Regions from separate parts of the Homo sapiens genome. Here all the other regions are linked to region 3. Evidence: fine-mapped expression QTL. A gene starts in region 3. Each other region holds a variant in brackets. All regions are shown on one strand. Distances are from middle to middle.

What was found. PIP is the estimated chance that this variant, and not a neighbour inherited with it, causes the effect. A credible set is the group of variants that fine-mapping cannot tell apart.
Region 1: its variant is the best candidate, but not a certain one, in a credible set for the expression of MIPEP in stomach (GTEx, PIP 0.67).
Region 2: its variant is the best candidate, but not a certain one, in a credible set for the expression of MIPEP in pancreas (GTEx, PIP 0.58).

Annotation. Positions count from the first base shown.
Region 1 is chr13:23,859,115-23,865,492 of GRCh38, forward strand. It overlaps MIPEP (mitochondrial intermediate peptidase), which reads right to left. Exons shown (of 19, transcript NM_005932.4): 8 at 5,027-5,075; 9 at 3,188-3,248. Among named protein-coding and RNA genes, the nearest start is that of PCOTH, 27 kb to the right of the region's middle. The variant A/T (reference allele first, on the strand shown) is at 3,509.
Region 2 is chr13:23,800,292-23,806,688 of GRCh38, forward strand. MIPEP (mitochondrial intermediate peptidase) reads right to left here. Exons shown (of 19, transcript NM_005932.4): 16 at 5,659-5,778. Among named protein-coding and RNA genes, the nearest start is that of PCOTH, 85 kb to the right of the region's middle. The variant T/C (reference allele first, on the strand shown) is at 2,755.
Region 3 is chr13:23,886,091-23,892,487 of GRCh38, forward strand. MIPEP (mitochondrial intermediate peptidase) reads right to left here and starts at 3,310. Exons shown (of 19, transcript NM_005932.4): 1 at 3,042-3,310; 2 at 243-416. The coding sequence starts at 3,230. It overlaps C1QTNF9B (C1q and TNF related 9B), which reads right to left. Exons shown (of 5, transcript NM_001007537.3): 5 at 5,009-5,971. The coding sequence ends at 5,199. PCOTH (prostate and testis expressed opposite C1QTNF9B and MIPEP) reads left to right here and starts at 2,778. Exons shown (of 4, transcript NR_172510.1): 1 at 2,778-2,921; 2 at 3,910-3,952; 3 at 5,295-5,441; 4 at 5,523-6,013. RefSeq lists enhancers at 3,090-3,590, 3,650-3,709.

The sequences.
Region 1 (6,378 bases), 27 kb before region 3:
GTATAACTAAGACCTACCCCAGAATCTGGGGAAAAGACAAACAAATGTCATTCTGAAGTGGTATCTAACAAAAGTAAACATTAACGAATTATATTAGCCATAATGAAATTTTTCCCAAAATGTAACCCATGTATTAATCCATAAAACACACTGTAGGTAAGATGAGTGTACTAAAGGTAGGATTAAGGTTCTTTCTAAATCTAAGCAAGAAGCTTTGGGTAGATATCAAAAATGAAAGCAGCAATTTAAAATGTAACCAAGGCAGAATTAACTCTAATCTTGGCAAAGAAAATATGTCATAAAGAAGTACTATAGTACTAGTTGCTTTTGATGATTGGCACATAATACTGAAAGAAGGGAAAGCTTGAATACTTGAATGACTGTCCTTCCTTCTAGGTGTCCAGGTGGACAAAAGAGTGGTTAAGAGACCAGGCTGTGAAGACAGACTGCCTGGGCTCAAGTTTCCAATCCATACCAGACTATAAACTGCATGATGACAGGGACTTTGTTTGCATCCTTCCCTATTACATTCCTGTCCCCTGAACAGTACCTGGCCCAGGGTAGTCACTCAGTAAATATTTGTTGAAAGAATCAACAGTACCTCCCAAAGAAGACTGCTGAATGTACTTAAACTATTAAGTAGAATATCTGGCATTGAGTAAGGGCTCAACAAATGTTGGCTACTCTCCTTATTACCATTATCCTTTAACATTTCAGTTTAGGCATAATCTCCTCCAATAACAAGGTGTTATTTCCCATATTCCATGGTAATACTTATATCATGGGATGCATGACAACCTAAGATACTTGTAGGCTTATTTTCTTTCTCCTCATGAGTGCCTGAAGGGCAGGGACTGCGTCCATGGAACCCTAGCCCCACAGTGTTCTGGTCCTGGCACACATTTTCTCTAACAGATGATTATTTGCTATCTGCTAGATGCAGACAGAGTGCAGGCTGTAATCAGACAAAAACAAGAGGATGATAGCCTAGGCAGTAGAAGGGCAAGTGACTCAACAATCAGAGGACAGTATGTCATGTCTACATTGTGCCATGTAAAACACAGCCCACAAGAAGAGTATTTAAATCACAGCGGAAGGTTAGGAAATGTTCTCAAGAAGGCAAAGCCTGAATTGAGTTTTATGATAGAAGCAGTTAATCCAGATGAGAAAGGGAGAAAGGCATTCCTGTAGGTGGTGTTTGTAAATGACTGGAAGCTGCTCACCATGCCATATTTATGTGGCCGGCACGTAAATATTAATTCAAATTAAAGAATCAAAGAAAGCAAAGCAAGGAAAGAAAGCAAAACTAAGTGAATAGAGATCACATGAGCATCACACAGGTATTAGGAGAGAGCAAAGAACACAGCCTCGGCTTGGAGGGGCAGCAGAAGATGAAGCTAGAGAAGGAGGCAAGGGCCAAATCATGAGGGCTTGGCGGGAGCAGCAGGGTAGTAGGAAGGGAAACTGGAGAATAACCAGGAGCTACTGAATAATTTTAAACAACAGAGTGACAAGATCAGATCTGCTTTTTAGACAAATCCCTCTGGTGGCAATTCATTCATTCATTATTCATTCATAGTTCAAATAAGTGTTGACAACCAATTCTATGCCTAACACTGGGCTAAATACATGGCTAAACTGTCTGAATCCAAGACGGCTTCGAGTGGAGCAAAAACAAAAGGCTAGAAACCAGTTAGGCAATCCCAGTTACCATCTGGGTGAGAATAATGATTGGGATCATAGCCCAGGCTATGGCAATGGGCACAGGAGAAGACACAAGAGTTCACAGGGAGGGAGAATCTGCAGGACCTAACAAATGATTATGGGGGAGGGGAGTGTGCAGTGCCTGGGGTGCTTGTTGAAACACAGATTGTGGAGCTCACCCCAGTTTTTGATTCAGTGGGTCTGAGGTGGGGCTCAAGAATTTGCATTTCTAACAGGCTCCCATGTGATGCTACTGCTTCTGGTCCAGGAACCACACTTTGAGAACCACTGGTCTGGATTAAGTATAGGTCCTGACCAGAGCAGCAGGGTGAATGGTGGCACCATTCACCAAAGCAGGGACTTCATGAGGAGATTGGGCATTTCACAAATATCTGCAGAATAATTGTATCCATAAGCTATATACAAATATCTACAGATAACAGTTTAAAGTCATATTCACTTTTACTGAATTAGCTTTTGGCAACACATTTTGTTTTTTATTTTTCTGTTTCTATAGTCACCAAACTAAATTCTTACCTATTATCTGGTTTCCCAAATAAGCCTACCTACCAGGTCAAGGTGTGCAGATGACTGTGCAGATGACTAACAGTAGTTACTTTGCTAGACACAGCTCCTTCCATAAATTAACAGACTGACATGCTACTCTACACATCGCTGAGTTTAATGGGATTAATCTGTTTCCTAGTGGCTGTATCTGGGAAGCTAGTAAACAGTTTGTAAATCTGCAAGGCCCATTTCCCTAAATCTTCCTTATGACTATGGCTCTGGCAGCAGCAACTAAGTCAAGAACTAATAACAGCATTTGGAAAAGAATGGTGTAGACAACCCCGGCAATCCTGTAGTGCCCTAGAACCAAATGGGAATGAGTCCTAATATCTGGACTCTCGACACTTTTCAGGGCACTCCCCCAATCACCTGGGCAGCATTCTGGCCATAACAATACTTGTCTATACTCTTGGATCACATAAGGAAGATCATATAATCATATGATTGAAAACAACACTTAAGTGTTTTTAGAATGTGGTATACTTTGTTAGTCAAATACTCAATTGGGCACCATAAATTAGCTAACAAATAAGCAAATGAACTGCAACATTAACACTGATGGTTAAAATTGCCACCTGCCAGATGAAGCCTCCACTGAGTCTCCTTAAAGTCTGCTTCAAACTGAGAAGCCAACATTCCACAGAATGAAAGCAGTCTTTGCATGAATATATACACATTGTGTTAGTGTATATACATAAAATATGTCGACTCCTCAACAAAAATGCTGTATGTACAGGCAACATCAGTTTGGGACATAAGAATCAAATATTTCAACATCTTTATTCACCAAAACCGAGGATCAGAAACAAGACTAAATGGACCTGTAGCCTATCACAAGAAAGTTCCTGAATCAAAAGATATTGATTTCAGTTGACAGACTGTCTATATTATAATAAAAATATTCCAACATACTTACGGAATTTTGAGGATTCAGTTTCATTTTCATCCCTCGTATCATCTCAAAATCTTTCAGAGTTCTATAAAACAGGTTTATCATTACTTGTTAGGACAAAATTTTAACAATTACATTATGAAAGGACTAGTTTGCTTATGTTACATTCCAATATTCATAAGATTAGATACAATTAGTAGTGCACACATAAATCACTATTAATCCAAATTTTACCTAAGTGTCATGAGAAATAACAATATATAAAGCAGCATATTACTGCGATTTCTACCTTAAAAAGCATCATGGTGGATAAATGTCTCAAGAGTACTAAAGCTTGGAAAAACT[A/T]GCAATGTCATTACAAATATGCAAAGCATTAATCACTAACTTTAAATCACTACTTTTTGCTATACCTTTAAAAGAGACTTAACAAATTAACTCCTAGAAAGGAATTTTATCATTGGCTACATTTAAGATTTCTAGTCATTTTTCCCCTTTGGAAAAACTCTAGCTGGTCAATAATTAAATAGGTATTTAATATTTGTAGAATATGACATGTATATTGGAATTAATTCCTATATATACCTGTAAAATGATGAAGCTATGCTTGCTCTAAAATCTATAGCTATGTAGAGAAAGACTACTAACACTTAACTAAGTAAAGCAGGATAAATCCTCAATAAGTGCATAACTAACCCTCTTTCTTTATTGTATCAAAGACACAGTGGTTCACCAGGATCATTAAAAGAAAATTTTAGAATTTATAAACATAATCCAAACTAGAGAAGAATGAGTTCTAAGGCATGAGTTTATAGTCCAAAACAGAAATGTGAGCCAAGATCCAATGTGTTGGTGTAGCCACAACAGGCAAACAAAATTTTAGACAGCATTACAAGAGAAAAAGAGAAAACATCATCCTTTTTTACAAACGGTGACTGCTTCTTCCTAGAATCCTTAGTACCTAAAGGTGTGCTGCCTCTCAACTAAGGCCTAGAAGAGGGCCAGTGAAGGGCAAGTGTATGATCGAAGGCACTGAGCAGGGGAGGGGCAGGGGAGGCAGGAATACAGGTTGAGCCTCCCTAATCTGAAAATCTGAAACTTTCTCAGCACTGACATGATGGTACAAGTGGAAAATTCCACATGTGATGTCATGTGATAGGTTGCAGCCAAAACTTTGTTTCAGGCACAAAATTATTAAAAACACTGTATAAAATTATCTTCAGGCTATGTGTATAAGGTGTATATGAAACATAAATGAATTTCGTGTTTAGACTTGGGTCCCATCCCCAAGATATCTCATTATGTATATGCAAATATTCCAAATTCCCCCCAAAAAATGAAATCCAAAACATGTGTGGTCCCAAGCATTTCAGATAAGGGACACTCAACTTGTTATAACAAACGGACACACCAAAGGCAGTAGAACACTTCAGCTTGAAATTACAAATGTTGAGATAGAACATCCTTAAAATACTACACAAAATTAAAAAGACACCACATCCATGAGCCTCCTGTATTTAGGCCAAAAGAAGAGAAATACTACTTTATGAACTTGTCATAAAATTCATGGTACAAGTTAAAATAAATAGTTTCAAAAACATTTTGGTAAAGATTTTTAAAGTGCAAATGAAAGATGAATTTCTAAAAACAATTGTTTAATGAAAGGGGACAGCTTATGTTTTCAAGAATGGCACATAAGGAAGACAACTATGGCCTTTTAAAGTATGTCTCATAGTGAGACAGGTCTGGTCCAATATGCCAAAACTTATATTCTAGGTCACTTCCTAATTTTTTATAAATCAAGTCTTCTTTAAAAAGACTAAATAACATATAACCAAAAAACTAAATAGTAGAATAAAAACTAACCTTTCAGAAAGTTTGTCAGATAGTTTTTCAAGGAACTGCATGACAGTCTCTAAAACGAAATCCAAAAGAAAATATCTTCAATTATGTGAAATAAAATGAACATATCTGTTAAAATTATTATGTGATGATCATAATCTATATCCCACAATTCCCTTAAAGTGATGATTTTCAAAGGGAAGTAGAGCTACCAACATATACCAAACATATAGTAAATGCTTCTAGGTGATGACGATCTTTTAATCAGAAAAAAATTAAATTGGCATACTAATAATCCACAGCGTCAGATTCTATCCCAAAATTAAAAGAGTTAATGGGACCAGGTGGCTCATGCCTGTAATCCTAGTACTTTGGGAGGCTGAGGGCAGGGGGTGGATCACCTGAGGTCAGGAGTTCAAGACCAGCAAGGCCAACAGGCTGAAACCCCGTCTCTACCAAAAATACAAAAATTAGCCAGGCGTGGTGGTGCATGCCTATAGTCCCAGCTACTTGGGAGGCTAAGGCAGGAGAATAGCTTGAACCCAGGAGGTAGAGACTATAGTGAGCCCAGACTGTGCCACTGTACTCCAGCCTGGGCAAGAAAGTGAGACTCCATCTCAAAAAAAAAAAAAAAAAGAGTTAATGGGAGGCTAAAGAAAAAAGTACAAAATTTCAAGGTGTTTCTATCTATTCATATGTGTAAGAAAAAAAAGTTCTGAGACATGTCTGACGTTTTCAGAGTTTTAAAGAGATATCTAGACTGCTTTGTTCATAAAAATAGGTGCAGTGTAGAAGTATAATTCCCTGAAATAAATTTTTTAAGATCAATGTTTTTCTTGATAACAATTTTATTGTTATATACAACTGTAGAATAATCTATTCAGGATAAATATGAAAAAAATAGCAAAATAAGAAAAATAAATATTAACTTCTGATAGAATTTTTAAAGTATTTTTATTAAAATACTTCTGCCATAGTTGTCATAATTTACAAACCCATAAAGGCAGTGCAGTAGAATTATCACCGTTTCCCACAAGAGGAAATGTTTTGCAAGTATTTCTGAATGTAGCACTTTTTATCACTGACTTATGTGTACAGAGCTTTCATATGTATTTTAGTTCACCACAAACACTATGTTTGTATTTTCCAGATAATCTTTTATACAGTTTTAAGTTTCCTGCCCTCTCTTCAATTTAAGTTATCTCCTTTTGAGTGAAATAAAAGACTAAGGAAATAAATAATGGTGGTTAACCTAAACCCAAACCATGAGGTTTCTTGCCACTGTCAATACTTAACAAGTCCTGTGTATACGAATTCTGAAAACACTGGCTCATGTGCCATATGAAACAACAATAGGAATTTTTGGGGAACAAAGA
Region 2 (6,397 bases), 86 kb before region 3:
TAAAATTACAAACCTAGAATGCTACAAAAATAAAAATATTACATTTTCTATTTCCTGAATTAAAAATAGGAGAGATACACAATCGCTTAGGGAAAATATTCTGAGAAGAGACAGTCATGAATATAAAAAACACAACAACACAACACTGTTCTCTAAATGGAAGAGAAGTGGTAACAGCAGAAGGTGAGCCTGTTGGTATATGTTGTACTATTGCCCTCTATTCACAAATGAGTAGAAAATTTTGGATTTCCAGCATCAAACTACTGTTAGATGGAATAGCAAGTAAGTACAAATTAGCCTATATTTTATACAGAGTGACTCAGCATGCACACAAATATCAATAAATTGCCGACACTAGAAGGCTATTTATTGACTTGTAAAGAAAGCATCATTATTTAATATGGAATATCTGTGGAGCTGCCCCTATTAAATAGTTACAGTCATGTAAATGCAATTTTCCAAAGTATGACCTACATAAAGCTAGTGCCTAGAAATTATCCATGAAGACTTCCAGGGTTAATACATTTGAGGATAGAGACTCATAATGTTTGTTAGCATATTACAGACTCCAAGCGGTTCCTCAGTAGAGAAGCCAGCTCAATGTTGTTTAAACCAGTATTGCTCAAAGATAACTAGTGCGACACTTTATTCCCAAGATGAGTTATTAATGCACTTAAAGAATTGCTAATATAGACATATGCAAAATCACTGTCTAAAAGTTTGTACCAGATTATGTACCTAAATTTGTATCAACTCCATAAGCATTATAAAGACTCTTCGTTGCTTATATTTTCCTTTTCTCATTGTTTAATTTGGGGGAATAAAAGGATTCATTTCAGAGAAACAATTTCTGGAGACAAGTTTACAGGGGGAACACTGTCACTCTTTGGCCCGCATGGGAAGGCGCTACAAAGTCATCTTCTATCCGATATGGAAGTTGAAAGCCTTGCAGTTGTCCCATTCCCGTGGATCTTGCTCATCATCCCAACCCATATATCCAGTCACCCCCACTGCACTGATTATGCCTTCTGCACTGTTCTCAGGTCTGTTTCAATCTTCCACTCCCCACAGTCAGTGTCCTAGTTTGAGCCACCAGCAGCTTTGCCAAGGTCCATTCTTGGCATACCCCATACCTTGTAGCCCAGATCACCTTTTAATCCTTGGAAGTGTTTTCTATCTACCAAGACTATATGTCTACTATTAGTAGAAAGAATGACAAAGTCATCAACCATGTACCCACCAATCAGTTTAAGAAAATATTTCTAAGACTCCTGTGAATCCACTCCTATGAATTCTGTGCTTATAATTCCCTCACTTTTCTTTATAGTCTAATCACATATGTATTTATCTGACAATGTACTGCTTAGTTTTGCATCACTCTGAACTTTATATAAATGTACTAGTTTGATTCATCTGGTATTCATTTATTTCACTTTACCTTATGCTTGTTAGGCTCATCAACTGGGGCCCTCAATTTCCATAGCTGAACAGTATTCCAGCTGTATGAACAAATTGTTTATCCATTTCTCTGATGACAATCACTTGGGTTCTTCCCGGAATCCTCCCCCTCACCTTTTTTTTAACTACTTACAACAAGTGCTGTTATAAACCCTCCTATTTTTTCATGCCTGGTACAGAAAAGTATACCTGGTAGAGAAAGTAAAACATTTTTTTTTCTAGGTTATATTAGGAATTGAATTGCTGGGTCATAGGGCAGTCCATATTCAGATTTCACAGATCTGTTCTGCAAAGTGGTTATACCAATTTGCTCTCCTACCTGCAGTGTATAAGAGTTCCTGTGACTCCACATCCTTGCCAACATCTGATACTGTCAATTGTTTTATTTTTTGCCAAACCAGTGATAGTAAAATATTTTAGGAGTATTGTAATGTGGTTTTAATGTGCATTCCCTGATTAATATTTAAGTTATTTTACGTCATTTTTTGCATATCCATGTCTTTTGTTTATTCAAAGTAATTTAAAAATATAACCTTTTCCAATGGCCGGGCATGGTGGCTCACACCTGTAATCCTAGCACTTTGGGAGGTGGAAGCAGGCAGATCATTTGAGGTCAGGAGTTCAAGACCAGCCTGGCCAACATGGTGAAACCCTGTCTCCACTAAAAAATTAGGCAGGTATGGTGGCAGGTGCCTGTAATCCCAGCTACTCAGGAGGCTGAGGTGAGAGAATCGCTTGAACCCAGGAGGCAAAGGTTGCAGTGAGCCGAGACTGCACCACTGCACTCCAGCCTGAGCAATAGAGTGAGACTCCATCTGAAGGCAGGGGGGGAAGTCAGTTTTATGCTATGTGGTATTTAACTTTAAATATCATTGAATTTGTCAGTCTTTTGCTTTATGTTTAATGGCTTTCCATTGTATCTAGAAGATCCCCAACTTAAAGATTTTTTAACTTTAAGATTTTTCAACTCCACAGTGGTGTGAAAGCAATATGCATTCAATAGAAACTGTACTTTGGGTGCCTGACAACCATTTTGTTTTTCACTTTCAGTGCAGTATTCAATAAATTACATGAGATATTCAACACTTTATTATGAAATAGACTTTGTGTTAGATGAGTTTGCCCAACTGTAGGCTAACATAAGCATTCTGAGCACATTTAAGGTAGGCTAGGCTAAGCTATGACATTCAGCAGTGTAGGGGTATTAAATGTATTTTTGACTTATGATAGTTTCAACTTACAATGGGTTATTGGGACTTGACCGCATCATAAGTTGAGAAGCATCTGTATAAAATA[T/C]AAGATACTCAGAGTGGGTATAAAAAACACTATCATGGCCAGGCGCGGTGGCTCATGCCTGTAATCCTCAGCCTTGGGAGGCCAAGACAGGTGGATTATCTGAGGTTGGGAGTTCGAGACCAGCCTGGCCAACATGGTGAAACCCCGTCTCTACTAAAAAAACAAAAGTTAGCCAGGAGTGGTGGCGCACACCTGTAATCCCAGCTACTCAGGAGGCTGAGGAAGGAGAATTGCTTGAACCCAGGAGGCAGAGGTTGCAGTGAGCCAATACTGCGCCACTGCACTCCAGACTAGGAGTCAAAGCAAGACTCCATCTCAAAACAACAACAACAACAACAACAACAAAAACACTATCAAAAAGAAAAAATTCTTTTGTATTATCTTCTAAAATTTAAAGCTTTACTTTTCACATCTCGGTCTTTAACTCTATTTTTTGTGTGCAGTGTGATACAGGGCTGCATTTTTTTTTCCATATAGAGATCAATCACTACAACACCACTTTAAAAAATTGTTCCTTCTTCATCCAATAATCTACAGTGTCACTCAACCTATATTTGAGAGTCTATTAATTTGCTGAGTCTGCCGTTGGGCTCTTGCTCCTGTTTCACTGATATCTGTGCATCCCTACACCAGTGTTAGACTGTCTTAATTCCTACAGCTTTATTTGAATTCAAGTTGGTGGTCAAGTCCACCAACTTGATGTCGGGAATGTTATAGGCTTGATGAATGCATTGACAAACAAATGAAGAAATGCAGAAGTTTCTAAGTAGGAAGAGTAGGCTATCTGTACAAATCTAAACAAACTCTCAGACACTTTTTTTTAAAGGCAAGCCTTAAAATAATGTCTTTTTTTCTCTAAACATAGCTATGCTTCTTTTAAAGACCTCTTAAAACAATTTACACAAAGAGCAAGTGATGGCTACTGAACGTGAATTGTGGAGCTAATCCCAGTAAAGAGATACATCTTTCTATTTTCTCAAAAGGAATTAGGACAAGGCACACGGACTTAGCATCACCCTTCCTTTCAAATTAAAAGTGATTTATGGATTGTTGATTCAGAATTTGGTTGCCACTAATACTTCATATTTGTATGTTAAATGATTACAGAGAAGAAATCTGGATGGTAAGGAAGTTTTCTTTTAAAAAGAGACATAATTACTTTATTATTAGACCTACGATAAAAAAGGGCAGAAGGCAAGCAACTCAGTCAAACTGAAGTTTTGTAGCTTTGGCAAGCATCCCAGTTCTCCTAATGTTAGTCTTCCTAGGACTTTACTACTTACTGGTCATGAAGTTTAACTCATATTCACAAAGAAGAATATAAGATGAGAACAAAAACATACAAGCCCAAAAGCAGGTGAATCAGGCAATGCTCTGTGAACTGGAAAATGCTAGTAAAATCTAGGCAATTGTTATTATTTATTCCATGAATAAATAGTTAGATTATTCTTATCACTATAAATTTTCACTAACACAGATAATCAAGAGCTTGGCAGTAGAAAGTATTAGAATAGTAAATTACATGTAAGATTAAAAAATTAGTTAGTATGACTGACATTATATACCTGTAGCAGATAATTAAGGTTCTAAGCCAATCGAAAACTAATGACAAGAGGTATTATGAAGATAAAATATCCTGTTGCTTCACTTGTCTGGTAAATACGATCTCTTCCCATGCATATTTGAGCATTAGGACCTGAAGATTTAGTGGACAATTGTAGTTTATTGATTAACTTAATCTCTTAGCACAACATATTCTGCTATCCAATCTTAGAGCAAATAAAACCACTTGACATTTATTCTGCTTTTTATAGTTTACAAAACACTTTCAAGTTAGCTCTCCTTCTGTTAGACCAACTAGGCTAGAAGGACATCGACCTGAACCTACCGGTAGTTATCAAACCATTCAGTCTGGGGGGATTGCCAGAGAATGAAAGGAACCCAGAAAAACACCGAGCTGAGAGGCAGAAAGAGAGAGAAACATTTCTAACGACATTGTGGGAGACCTAAATCCAACTTACTTGAAACACCCCTATACCCCTGCACCTTTCAGTTACAAGACTCAATAAATTCCCTTTTCTGTTTAAGTCCGTGTGAACCACGTTTCTATCACTTGCAGCTGAGAAAGGCCTGGGTAACATTAAGTCAGTCACATTGCTAACTGCACCAAGAATCACACTGTTAATTGCACTAGGAGTCACGGTGCTCAACTGCTCCTTACACGAGCCTTTGAGTGATGAAAAAAGCCTGTTTGTTTTGAACCCCCATACAATCACTTAACTACCTAGATGATCTCAGACAGGACATATAATGTGTCTGTGCCTCCAAATGAGCCCCAAATACAAGGATATAATTTAATTTATAAGGTTATTTTGAGAGCTAAATTAGAGATCTTTTCCCAAAGGAATTAGATAGAGTCTGGCGCCTAGAATCCAATAAATGGTAACATTACTCCTGCTCTCTCTCCTGACATGGTACTCAACAAGATAAGATATGTAAAGCATCTATTATAATTCCTGGTACAATGTAAGATACTCAATACATGTTAATTCTCTTTGCAATGAAAATGATTCAGGACTGGTAATCACATTCATCTTACATCACTATTTTTCACATTGTAGAAAAATAACTAAAAAGAAGAATATAGACCAACTCCAATGGCCTTTTTAACCCCCACATTTCCAAAAAGGTACAAAAACACTGTTAGAGGGAGGAAAATAAGAACATATAAATGGGTAGTTGGAAATATTAAATGAACCAGGCAATTTCCAGCATTTGAGCCATGTGAAGCCTCAACATAAATGTAGGGATTTCAAGTTCTCCAAAGGGGAAGATAATCACAAGCTACAGAAGTAATAGCAGAACCACTCAATACACAAAACAGAAGCCAAATGCTGGACTCACAGTATTTGGAACATATGGTAGGCCATAGAATTTCTCTTGTGTTTCCTTGAGAATGTCTGTGGTTGAATTCCTCAGGGGATGCTTCCCATGGTAGATTTGATCCAGAGTGGCATAAAAGACCTAGATAGATAAAAACATCTACTTAGTTTTGGTCGTCCATCCTCACATCAAGATGTGGTTGACCAAAGATGCTATAAGTGCACCAGAACAACAGTTACCAATCACAGTTGAAAACAGTCACAAAAATAAACTTACATGGTTTGAAATGTATTTCATACCACATTTAAGACCATGCTAAAGATTAAAAGGAATGCTCTCAACCTTTTCATAAATAAGAATATTAAAGAATTTTGAACCATACCCATAAGATACTCTTTATGTACAATGGCAGCAAATCAAATATGTGACACAAAACTGGAATTTTGCCAAAATATATGTAGACGGAAGGCCAGGCGCGGTGGCTCACGCCTGTAATCCCAGCACTTTGGGAGGCCGAGGCGGGAGGATCACGAGGTCAGGAGATCAAGACCATCCTGGCTAACATAGTGAAATCCCGTTTCTACTAAAAATACAAAAAAATTAGACAGGCGTGGTGGCAGGCACCTCTAGTCCCAGCTACTCGGGAGGCTGAGGCAGGAGAATGGCGTGAACCTGGGAGGCGGAGCTCGCAGTGAGCCGAGATTGCTCCACTGCACTCCAGCCTGGGAGAGACTCCGTCTCAAAAAAAAAAACCAAACAA
Region 3 (6,397 bases):
ACATGTATATTTTATTAAACATACGTATTAAAGTACAAGTTCTAAATATCACCTTTTCCTATAATATTTTCCCATTCCTAATGACATATTTCATCATAAAAAATTATACCCAATGGATCTCAGTTTCAGACATTTTTAACTTTATAATCTAATATTAATAGTAAACAACAAAGGATAAATTTCACTTAAATTTTAACAAGTTGAAAGAGAGGTAGCTTCAAGTCTGAGGTAAAGCACCTTACCAAGTCGGCCACTCTGCATAAGGAATCCGAGAGCTCATCGAAGATCAGCACGGTCTGGGGCCCAGGTGGGGTGGAACATGCACGGTCCACAAGCAATTCTGTCTTTCTCAAGGCTTTTTCTTGTGCAATATGAAATCCTTCTGGGGCACTCAGCTCAGGAACTCCAAAAAGACCCTTAGAACCAAAGAATACGTCTGATTTATAACCAAAATTCAAAATTGTGCTTTTTTTATATTTACTAAAATTACTTTTATCACAAAGGAGATCTTGACTTTCATTGGTGTATCATGTTATACCTGTGATCACAGATACCACTATCATACTCCCCATATCACTCCACATAAATTACACTAAAAATGTTTTCAGAACATAATTTTTCTTCAATTTTTAATTATTTTCCGGAAAAAACAACAACAACAATGGTATGGGTTCAAAATCCAGCTGTCACTTCTACAGAACCTAAGAGTGGCCGCAAAGATTAAATGAGATCATATATGTAAATATATATATATATATACATAAAGCAGTGTTTGGCACAGAGCATTTATAGATGTTAGCCATAATTATTATTAGCTTATAACCCTGGTCATGTTATTTCTCCTCCTAGGAGAAATATTTTTTTCATCATGTACAATGGGAATGACGATACATACCTTACAGCATGGATACAGGTAATAAGTATATGTAAAGTACTAACAGCAGCAGCTGACAAGGTGAGATCTCAGTACATAGTACCAATTATTCTATAACTATCAAATAGGGAGGATGAGTTGACTATGAAGCAATAGATATTTTAGAAAAATGTAATGAACATATTAAAATCATAGGCTGAAACTGGGAGCAAATTTTATACGTTACAAAGACATTTCAATATCTTGATAAAAACAAAAATCACTGATCTAATGGTAATGACCATTCTCTTGTTACCTATTCAATCACACTTGTTAGCACACTCAGGAAGGCAGGGGGAAAAAGCATTTAATATGCACCTACTGCATACCATGAAGTGTGCCTGCTACTTTACATAGGTTCTCATTTAAATCACACAATCCTACAGAACAGAGTATCATTCTTTTACAGATCAGGCCACATGCTTTAAGACGTTAGAAAAAACTTGTTTGAGGTCACAAATTAATATTGGGAAAGACAGAACTCGAACCCGCTCTGTACATCTGTAAAGCCCACACTTTTCCATACTTCTCTATTACAATTTATCTGTTTGAAAGTCTTCTCTCCTGAAAAGGTGAGCTTCCAGACCCAAGAGCCCTGCCCTTCATTTCTTTAACCAGCTATCCAATAGAATGTCTAACACATGGGGGAACTCAATGAAAGAAACAAGTGACCGGAGCAGATGCTAGGCTTTGTTAATTCACTTTGTAGGTGCTTAACGCATAGATTTTCAGAAATACGAACAGGTAAACCTTCAGGCCTGACAAGCCCTACTGTTTCTACAAGAAGGGATGGATGAAGTTAAGCTAGTAATCTCTCTTCAAAATATATTACAAGATAAAAAATAAAATAAAAGAAAGTCAGTGGGAGACAAAGGAAAATCAGGACCAAAAACAAATGTCATCTTTATACTGATTTAATTTGATTCAAGCACAGACTACTTCCACTTCCCAGTACAACCTGCCCATATTGCTCTCGGGAATTCTAACTATCGGATTACCAGTGACCATAATGCTAAAAAACTGAATAAGGCTTTTTTTTTTTCAAGGCAAAAATCAATTCTAAAATTTGAAAATCTGCTATCAGTGCCGAATATCATGATACAAAAAGGGAAAAATAAAAGCTAAAATTAGTTATATCTCATCCACCCAAAATCAGGCTTCCCCTCACGTCTTTCTGCTCAGCGCCTACAAGTAGGTCTCTTCACACCAACTATGTTAATACCAACACTACATACCCTTAAGGAAGGTGGTGTAGCAAATTTCACACAAAATAATTTTTAAATAGACAAAACTGATAATGGAGATAAAACAAGAATCACACACTTTAGCTCAGTGCAACAATACCCTAGACTTGTCTTTATAAGGCAATACAGTATAACGAAATTTTAAAAGGCAAAAATAAAAGTAATCCTTAACCTAAAACGGACAAAATGTACAAACTCCAAGTAGAACAGGCATCAGGTAAGTCCTTTCCAACCTTGCCTTCCTCTCACCTTTCACTAGACAACGCAGGCTAGTGACTTCCTGGGGTAAGAAATCAAAGTGACCAATTCCATGGCACTATGGGAAGTGAGACTCGTCTCAACAGAGTTTTGTGTTTTAAAACAAGAAAGCCCAAAGCTTTGAAATAAATTAATTAATAGATGATGGAATTTCAGGTATTAATGAAATTACCATTACTCGACTGCAGGCAGCCGTGTCCTTGCAAAAAGACCATGTGATGCCGCCTGTGAACGCACAGGGATAGGCCTCTTAAGGCAGGACTGTAGCGCTGGAGCTAAAGGGCTTTAGCAGGGGTGCGCCTGAGTGTATGCAGAGGGCGGGTCCTGGCAGGACGAATTCACCGCCACTGCCAGAACGAACTATTCAGATTCACGTGGAGCAAGGGGCTCATGCAGAAGCAGTTCCCGGACCCGACACTCTGGGTAGGAGACCACTAAACCCGGCCCCTCAAAGCAGAGGTGACCTTGCCCTCATCGAGAGCGCACACAAGACGCCACTGTAAAAGGTGGGTTCGCTGCTCGCCTCCTCCCAGGCCCAAACAATCTCGCCCTGATTGTTGCTGGCCGCGCGGAGCAGGGGTCGGCTTAGCTCGGGGACTGAGGGGAGCTCCTCCTGCGCCGCTCACCCGGCGCTCGCCGAACAGGTCCAAGCGGCTGCCCTGGGGCTTGACATTGAAGGCGGCGCCCACGGGAGACCAGCTGGTGCTGACCCTTCGGGCCCGGATCCCGGCTTCGAGGCTTCCCCGGCCCGCCCGGCGGGGCGGCAGAGCTGCTGCTCTGGCTCCCAAGCCGCCCAGCCTTCCGACGCACAGCATTCTAGCACCAGAGCAGTCCCTTCCTCCAACGCAGATCCCTGCCCTGCTGCTTTCGCTGGGAGCGCGCGCTCCGCGTTTCCAAGGCAGCAGCCCACGCCGCCCCACGTGACGGCCCCGCTTCCGGGTCTGGGCGCGGCCTCAGGACGTGGGCACGTTGTCGTCCAGAGAGCAAGAGCGTCGCTCCCCCTCGCCTTCTCGGCCGCCCTCCCGGTTTACCGCCCCCTGTGTCCAGAGTAAGAAAAGGCTAGGGTTGCGCTTCCCTCCCAAGTTGACTAGGGGTGGGCGCGAGTAAAATCATGACATATTCGAATTCCAGTGGACATTAGATATTCTTTGAGAGACGGCAGGTACTTGAGTAAACAAGAAATGCCCACCATAGGCCTGAAGGAGAAGTTTCCCTTTTAACCTACTCTCTTGGTAAATTTATCCTGCACTTCTCTGTTTGGTGTCTCTGTCCGGTAACTTTTTACTCTTGCATAGCTCAGTTAAAAATTTTAGATGGGAAATAGTGAAAGAAGTCTAATGGGATTTTCCCTCCAGGGTTTCAGAATTGCCTGGGACCCGTGAACCCTTTTTTCCTTCCCCTTTCTCTCTTTTGGAATGGATTGTCTACCCTATGCCTGTCTCCCCCTCCAACCCCCGGTCTTTTAGAAGTGGATTAACTCGTCTCGCTTCACAGGATCACAGATGGAGAGACATTTTGCCACACGATGAATCACACAGTAAGTCTCCTCTGTAGCTTATTTAAATGATGTAGATGGTGAGAGGAGTTGATGCGGAAAGTGTTAAGACTTTTGGTAATGTTGACATGGTGCGAAAATGTATTTTGCACATGAGAAGGAAATCAATTTTGGGAACCAGAGGGCAGATTGGGTTGAACTGTGTCTCCCAAAATAGATGCTGAAGTCCTAACCCTCGGTGCCTGTACATGTGACCTTATTTGAAAATATGGAGTTTGCAATTATGATTAAGATGGGTCATACTAGATTAGGGAAGCTGTTCTTGTAAGAAGAGGAAAATTTGGCTGATACAGGAGGAGGACAGCCACCTGAAGATGGAGGCGGGGACTGGAGTGATGCTGCCACCAGCTGCCAGAAGCTGGAAGCAGCAAGGCTGCATCCTCCTGTATCCCCTTTGGAGGGAGGATGGCCCTGCTGCTACGGTGATCTCAAACTTCCAGCCTACAGAACTGTGAGAAAGTCCGTTTCTGTTGTTTAAAGACTCCCAGTTTGTGTACTTTATTAGGGCGATCCTAGAAAACAAGTAGAGATTCATGTCTGGCAAATAATGATCAAACAATGATTTGTTGGATAGAATGGTGATTAAAACCTAGGTTAGAAAATGAGCAAAATGGGAGGGAAAGCACCAGGACAAATAGCTAATGCATGCAGGGCTTAATACCTGCATAGGTGATGGGTTGACAGATGCAGCAAACCACCACAGCACATTTTTATGTAACAAACCTGCACGTTCTGCATATGTATTCCAGAACTTAAAAATACATTTTTTAAAAAAAGACAAAATGAGCAGTGTCTACAGCTTTCTGGAGTGTGACAGCATCACCAGCTTAAAGCTGTTACTAGTACTAAATGGAATAAACATTTCCCTCTAATTTCCCCTTAATGTCCTCAGAAACACAGATGAGGGATACATCTTCATATGACTCCTCAGAGCACTAAAATGATATCAAAACACTCTTCCCACAAGAAATGCACAGACAAAGGATTCTTCAGATAATAGGAATAAGAAATGTGAAATAAATTAGAATAAACCATGCAGCTATTTTAAATATTTACTCCTGGAAAAATAGTAAGTTACATAGAATCAGTTTTGGGAATAACTTTTCCGTTTTCACCTTTTTATGATTATTGTAATAATTGGAGGAATTAATAAAGTAAAACCATCTGAATAAGTTCATCCCAAGCTGATTCTGATGGATGGTCTGGCAGATTTATAAACTCTCCTCTGTCACTGGCTGCTGAACAGAAGGAACCCTGTGAAAGTTGTGTCATCGTCCTCATCAGCAAACAAGCCATTGAACCTCTCTCCTCCTGTCACCTGCAGCCACATCTCATCCCCGAGCTTCAGCTGCAGGACAATGCTGCCAGAGGCCTGGTCCTCAGAGCTCACGTAAGCATCTCTGGTGTGCAGTATTTTTACTCCGTTTTTGACCAAAGACACCTGAACATTCCTGGAGAAAACAGTGATGTGGTAGGTGAAGTAATAGACCCCAGCAATGTGGCACGTGAATTTCCCCACTGCTGTATCATAATGGTTGAATTCATTATACAGGATCTTATCAAATTTAATGGGCACATCTGAAGAAGGAAACTTGCTCAGCACCGTGAGCCCCACAGTGAAAGCACTTTTTGGCAAGACTAGAGTCTCACCGATTTTCCCTTTCTCTCCTCGATCTCCTTTCCAGCCTCTTATTCCCCGGACTCCTGGCTCACCCTGGGGCCCCGTGGGTCCAGCTTCTCCCTTGGGACCAGGCTTTCCAATAGGGCCCATGGGGCCCGGTAAACCAGTTGGGCCCAAAGGCCCAATGTTGCCCCTTGGCCCCTCAGGACCAGTGGGACCCACGTCACCCTTATTCCCCTTCTGCCCCTGAGGCCCAGTCTCTCCTCGGAGGCCTTTCTCTCCCATGGGCCCTGCAAGCCCCTTGGGGCCATGTTTTCCTGGGGATCCTCTTGAGCCTTGATCACCTTTGATGCCTTTTGCTTCAACTTTTCCATCTGCTCCTAAATAGAGAAAGAGCAAATAAAGAGATAGTTTGTGAAAGATTCCCTTGTGAACAACTTTGGTTTTTCTATAATTGAGCTCACAAATGAAACAAAGTAGTACACAGGTTCAGTATATGCCCAGAGTTTAAAATTCAATTACTCCATCTGGGTGCGGTGGCTCACACCTGTAATCCTAGCACCTTGGGAGACCGCGGCAGGAGGACTGCCTGAGGCCAAGAGTTCAAGACCATCCCGGCCAACATAGCAATTCCCTGACTCTAAAAAAATAAAAATAATAAAAAAATAAGAAAATAAAATTCAATTACTCCAGCCCAGCTCAGTGGCTTATGCCTGTAATCCTAGCACTTTGGGAGGCCAAGAGAGGCAGACTACTTGAGTCCAGGAATTCAAGATCAGGCTAGGCAACATGGCAAAACCTCATCT